2 separate regions of the Homo sapiens genome follow, and region 1 is linked to region 2. The links come from fine-mapping of genetic effects on gene expression. A gene starts in region 2. The other region holds a variant in brackets. All regions are shown on one strand. Distances are from middle to middle. Region 1 overlaps TXNDC8 (thioredoxin domain containing 8). Region 2 holds the start of TXN (thioredoxin).

Region 1 (2,909 bases), 62 kb after region 2:
GCGATACCAGCAAAATACAAATTTACTTTCATTTTCTTGTAGCTGATTTAGAAACTCTACTTACAGATCTGATTCTTTGAGCGTTGGTGGCATAAATAATGCAAGAGTGCTTTTCTTCTGTGTAGGGGTTGACAAGCTTTTTTTGTAAAGGATCAGATAATACCAGCTTTAGGCTTTGCAGGCCATTTGGTCTCTGTTGCAACTACTCAAATTTGCTGTTGTAATGCTAAAGCAGCTAGTGACAATTCATAAACAAATGGGCATGGCTGTGTTCCAGTGAAAGTTTATTTACAAAAACAAGTGGAGGGTCGGATATGGCCCTGGGACTGTTCACCGACTCTTATTCTGTGCCATCAACTGAAGTTGTTGAGGCTTCATGCAACTGCCTAAGAGCTAGGTAGTCAGTACAATGTGGCTTTCTGTGGAAGGGCAAAAGCGTGTGCATCTAATGTCGTGGGAATTCACCTCAAGCCACACCTTGAACAGGAAAACTGATTTTGGACTCTGGCTAGAGGAGATGTCATTTTTCCCGTTTACTGGAAGTGTAGGGTGAAACTTTATTCTCAGGGATAAACATGGTTTGGGGGCCATTCCCTTCAATGGCTCATATACTTGTTCTCATGTTTCCACTGGAAAATCTGCTCAAATGCCCAGTTTTGAGAAAATATGCCTGTTTCCTATATCCCTTCACTTCTCCCCATGTTTAGAGGTGAGCTTATCTGTTAAGCTGACACAAAGGAATGAACTTGTGCCTATCCTCTCTCCTTTTGGGGATGCTCTGCTCAAGGGACAGGTATGCTCTCTTCCCACTGTCTTTCTGCACAACACATGGGAAGTGGGCCCTAAACCTGCCCAGATAGATCTGGAAGGCCATCATACTATAGCCTCACTTTTGGGGCTTGATAGTTGTGCAAAGCAACAATACCTCTTTTACCTGCACAGGTAAGTTTCTTCTTTGCAGCCCCAGATTCTCCCACAGGTGGGTCACCCCAATGTCTAGGCTTTAAGGGAATAGTAGGAAGTCTGTTGACATAGATCCCAGCCACATTGTTCAATGAGCACAGTGTAGCATTATGACTACTTATAATAAAGGTGATATTGTGATTAGCCACGTGACTCCTTGGGAGAAAAGAGTTAATGCAGCAGGTCTGGTTGCTTTCTTCTTGTGTGTCTCCAAGAGAACTATGTTTGACCCTTCACCACCCCCTAGAAATGTGGCCCTCCAAGTGTTCCTTGTGTTGGTGATTGACGGACTTTGTTATATATTCCTGGAGGGATGGACCATGCCATGCTGGCGTGTCAAGTTGCTTTGCATACACATCAATATTGATGATATGCCCCTGGTTTTATTGTTGGGGTTCTGAGT[T/G]TCTATTGCCATGGCCTGTTGTGTAGCAATGGTTGCACAAGATAAGTGTATGTCACAACTACTCCCCTACTTCCACAAAGACCTCAGTCTCTGAGCTCCAAGTGGTGTTCCTAAGTAGGGCCATACCACATAGCTACCGGAAGTTCATTGCTAGAGAGAGAGCATTCCTATGTGTCTGACAAGGAAAGACCTCAGAAGTCTCTGCTGGACCTTTCTGGACTCCATCAATGCATATCTTTTTTTTCTGCGCTTTTTCTCTGTATTCTTTGCTGTACTAAATCTTAGTTATGAATATAACTTGTGATTGGGTCTTGTAAGTCCTTCTGGTGAATCACCAAACATATCACTCCTATATTTCAACAACTTAAAATTCAGAGGAGAAGAGCAGGGTAGGTACTGGGGTAAAAAATTTAAGGGGTGGCCAGGCGCGGTTGCTCACGCCTGTAATCCCAGCCCTTTGGGAGGCCGAGGCAGGTGGATCACGAGGTCAGGAGATCGAGACCATCCTGCCTAACACGATGAAACCCTGTCTCTACTACAAAAATACAAAAAATTAGCCAGGCATCATGGCTGGCACCTGTAGTCCCAGCTACTTGGGAGGCTGAGGCAGGAGAATGGCGTGAAGCCGGGAGGCGGAGCTTGCAGTGAGCTGAGATAGTGCCACTGCCCTCCAGCCTGGGCGACAGAGCAAGACTCCGTCTAAAAAAAAAAAAAATTTTAAGGGGTAGCTGCCAAAACTCAGTAATCAACATAAATATTATGTTAATAAGTATTATATAAAAGTATTAAAACTCAGTGCAAAAAATACATGATGAACAAAATATCAAAAATTTAAATAAAGGTAAGATTTAATCCTGCACTTGTCATATCCTGACTTGCTTGCTGCACCCTAATCCCTGCCTGGGAGAAGAGACACATGTGAGCCTTTGAACTGTCAAAGCAGAGAGCAGCATCTTTAGCAAAGGTGCTGAAGGTTGCTAGATGTTTCTAAATAGTTACTACACTTTGCCCACTTTTGTTCCATCTCACTTAGTTCTTGCCCCCCGACCCCCAGTCAATCTCTGCCAGTGCATCAACTGTTTATGGAGTTGATAGGAACCCCTTTTAGGGATCTGCACCCTTTAGAGTCCTGCACGTAAGAGGTTTCTTTTTTTCCTCATGCAGAACATCTCTGTGTGTAACACAATCCTTGACAGGTTAAATATTATTGGGTAGGCAACCCCTGAATGCTAAGATGACTTAGCTTAAATGGATGTTGTAGTTATTGAAAGAGCCTTAGAGGTCTTCATAAACTTTATTTCTAAATTACTATTTATTTATACATTTTCAGAGAGATGGCCGTGCACAGCTAGATCCTGGGACTCTAATGATAGCTACATCTTCTAGTATTTACCAAGTCCAGTGCTAGGCACTTTAGATACAATATCACAAATTTGTCTGACAGTTGTTTAAACATAGGTGGTGTCCTCATTTTACAGAGAAGGAAACTAAGCCTCAAGGTGGTTATGGTACATTGCCACTAATAAGAGGCAGACCTGGGGCT
Region 2 (2,909 bases):
AAAACACTGAGAGTCAATAATAATCAAAGGAACAAAAGGATCGGGGACACATTGCAGACACACTTCTGTTTCCGAAGCCCACCCGGCACCAAACAGGTCAGGGCACCCGAGGCGGGCGAGGACCCGCCCTCCTCTGCTTCCCGCAGGTAGGGAGGGGTAATCGCAGGGTAGGCGCTGGCGAGGGGTCTTCTACCGTTCGAGCAGTATCAATTTCCTCCACTCACTTTTCTGACGCTGCATTTAACAAATATTTCTGGAGTGGCTACATTGGACTAGACACTGCGCGTTAGGCTCTGGGTTTCCCAGTCTACAAGGTTTTAGGCTTGCAATAACTTTCAAACATGGGAAGGCTGTTTCGCCTTGGGCATTTTTAAGAGGACAAAACAACGATCGGGATACCGATAGGTCGGCGAGCAGGCAGCAGGGCGCGGCTGCTCCCAGGAGGAACCCTGGCTCCAGCAAAACCCACCGACTGAGGGTGAATCATGGACGGGCAGGGCAGCCGAGGCCCCCGGGCCCAACCTTGGGGACTCAGTCATTCCAAAGCCACTGCTGCCGGAAACGCGCCCTGCGCCACAGGAGTCCCGTGGGCGCGGCCCGGACCTCACTTCCTCGCGGTCACCTGGGGCCCTCGGGCCTCCTGGACAGACCTGCACGTGCCAGGGGGTCTCCAGCCGCAATCCGCCCCCTTAGTGCGGATACAGCACGCGTCACCTTTGGGGTCGGGCATGGGTGGAGGCAGGCGGGGGTCTCCGGCCTAGACCCGCTCCCAAAGGGAGATCACTACCCCCGCTGCGGGTGGATCACTTCACATACGGAAAGGCAGCGGCGGCCACCGACCCGTGCCTTCTGCAAGGGCCCTCCCTATCCTTGCCTGGGGCCTGAATCTGGATACAGATGGGGGGCCAAGGGCGGACCCCTTCCATTCCCTCATCTTCCTCCAGTCGGGGCTGCCCGGACGGGAGGGTGCAGGAGGCGCAGCGTGGGGACTCCTCACGCTGTCTGCGCTCTCACATCCCCCGGACGCTCCCCGCGTGCGTGCAATCCCCCGAGGAACAGGGTGCGAGAAACGCTGGGCACCGCCACTCCGCCCTCCAGGGGACCCTCGTCCTTCTCCTCCCTTCCTCCAGGGCAGGCTCCACCGCCTCGGGCGCGCCCAGGCCGCTGCTTCCCGCAGTCCCAGGCCGAGACGCCGCGTCCCTTTCCCCTGGCGATGCGGAGGGGCGGCCTCCGCACCTCCCGCCACCGCCTTCCCCACCTCCCGCCACCGCCTTCCCCAGTTACAGAGGCCGCGCGCGGCGCCGGCACCCTGGCCTTCCCCGGTAGCGCGTACCTTGCTCTCGATCTGCTTCACCATCTTGGCTGCTGGAGTCTGACGAGCGGCTGTAAGGACCGATGGAAATGGATCCAAAGCACCAAACAGAGCTTCAAGACTCGCTGCTTGCTCTCTCCCTTTATAAACTGGCACGCCCGGCGTGCGTGTGGCGGGGGCGCGCGCGCCCGGCCGGACCTCCGCGCCCGTCGCTGCGCCCCGGCCACGCCCCGCCCCTGGAGCCTGCGAGCCGGGATCGGGGCGGGGCTGGCGCAAGCGTGGGGCGGAGCTCCAGGGCTTCGGCTCCTGTAACCCCAAGCCCAGCTCGCACTCCAGCTGGAAGTGGGGATCAGCACTGCGCGTGACGGTGGGAGGCGGGGAGACGGACAGTCACCCCCAGAGACACAAGGTCCCTCCCGGGTCACCTGGGGATGCGTCCGCCGGGCCTGAATCGAACACGCCCACGCTCGAGATGGGGACCGCCCAGGCAGGGCTGGATTCCTCGAAAAGGGCCGCCACGCCCCGGCCCCCCCAGCCACGTGAACCCCACAAAGTGCTGAGTAACGGTGACCGGGAAGTATCTCGGTGTGTACGTCCTTGCCTCCTCTCCGGAATTTACCGTGACCGTTCTCTTCTCTGTAACCTCCTTCTGTTCTTTCATTTTCACTGCTGAGCCCGCTGCTCCAGCTTGACACAGCGGTTTAGTGCGGTAGAAACGACCGGGGGACTGGTTGGGCTCTTGACCATCAGACAGCTGCGTGTGAGATGGAAGTGCCACTGGGTTGAGCTCTGCAACTTAGTTACGCAGTTGTGACCCTGGAAAGGTCCTGACCTCCTGAAGTCTCAGTGTTTCCTTCTGTAGAACGGGAATCATGATGGTCTCAATCTCACGGTGGTGGTATTTTGAGGGTTAATAGTGCTTGCAAAGGACGGTGCTTGGCACATAGTAAACACTCCATAGATAGTTCTTACTGTTCGGTGTCTTGCAGGGACTGATTGGGCCTGGCCACCTTATACAGCATTTACAATGGCACAGCACGCACACTTGTGTGAGATTCTTCTAACAGAGGCAGACTCCTGGAACAGAAGTCGGAGTTTGCATTGATCCAGGAATGCCTGTTGCAGGTTATGTCTGGCAGGGCTGGGGATTGTGGAAGGTGGGTATGTTAGCTGGCCTTGTGGAGCCAGGAGGGCCTGTCAGCGGCTGGAAGTGGAGGTTGAAAAGCTGCTCACAGGAACGAGAGCTAGAAGGCTGGGAGGGAGAGTCCCAGGTCTGTGTTTTCAGAGCTGAGCTGTTCCCGATGAAGCTGCAACTAGGTGTGATTGCCTAGGGGTGGTGATACTGCTGCCTGGCTGCCCCCTGAAATCCCTGGCTTCCTTCTTTCACTCTTTCAGACAGAGGAAGGGAGGAAACCAGAGGTTTTGAATCTATTGTGCAAAGTTTCTAGGGGGCTGAGGAGCACGGAGCATGAATATGGATATAGGCAAGGGACACATTCTAAAGACAGCCCATAGGGAGGGAAGACAGACTGCCCTGAATGCAGCAATGTTCCCAAAGAGAGGGAGGTTATTGGGGCAGAGAGGAAGGAGCTGTATG

The links.
Region 1: its variant is fine-mapped to the expression of TXN in whole blood (TOPMed, PIP above 0.99).

Annotation. Positions count from the first base shown.
Region 1 is chr9:110,316,670-110,319,578 of GRCh38, forward strand. All of the region lies in intron 4 of TXNDC8 (thioredoxin domain containing 8), which reads right to left. Among named protein-coding and RNA genes, the nearest start is that of TXNDC8, 20 kb to the right of the region's middle. The variant T/G (reference allele first, on the strand shown) is at 1,367.
Region 2 is chr9:110,255,079-110,257,987 of GRCh38, forward strand. TXN (thioredoxin) reads right to left here and starts at 1,429. Exons shown (of 5, transcript NM_003329.4): 1 at 1,334-1,429. The coding sequence starts at 1,357. RefSeq lists enhancers at 621-950, 1,693-2,892, 1,821-2,020, 2,061-2,110 and silencers at 1,021-1,270, 1,441-1,680.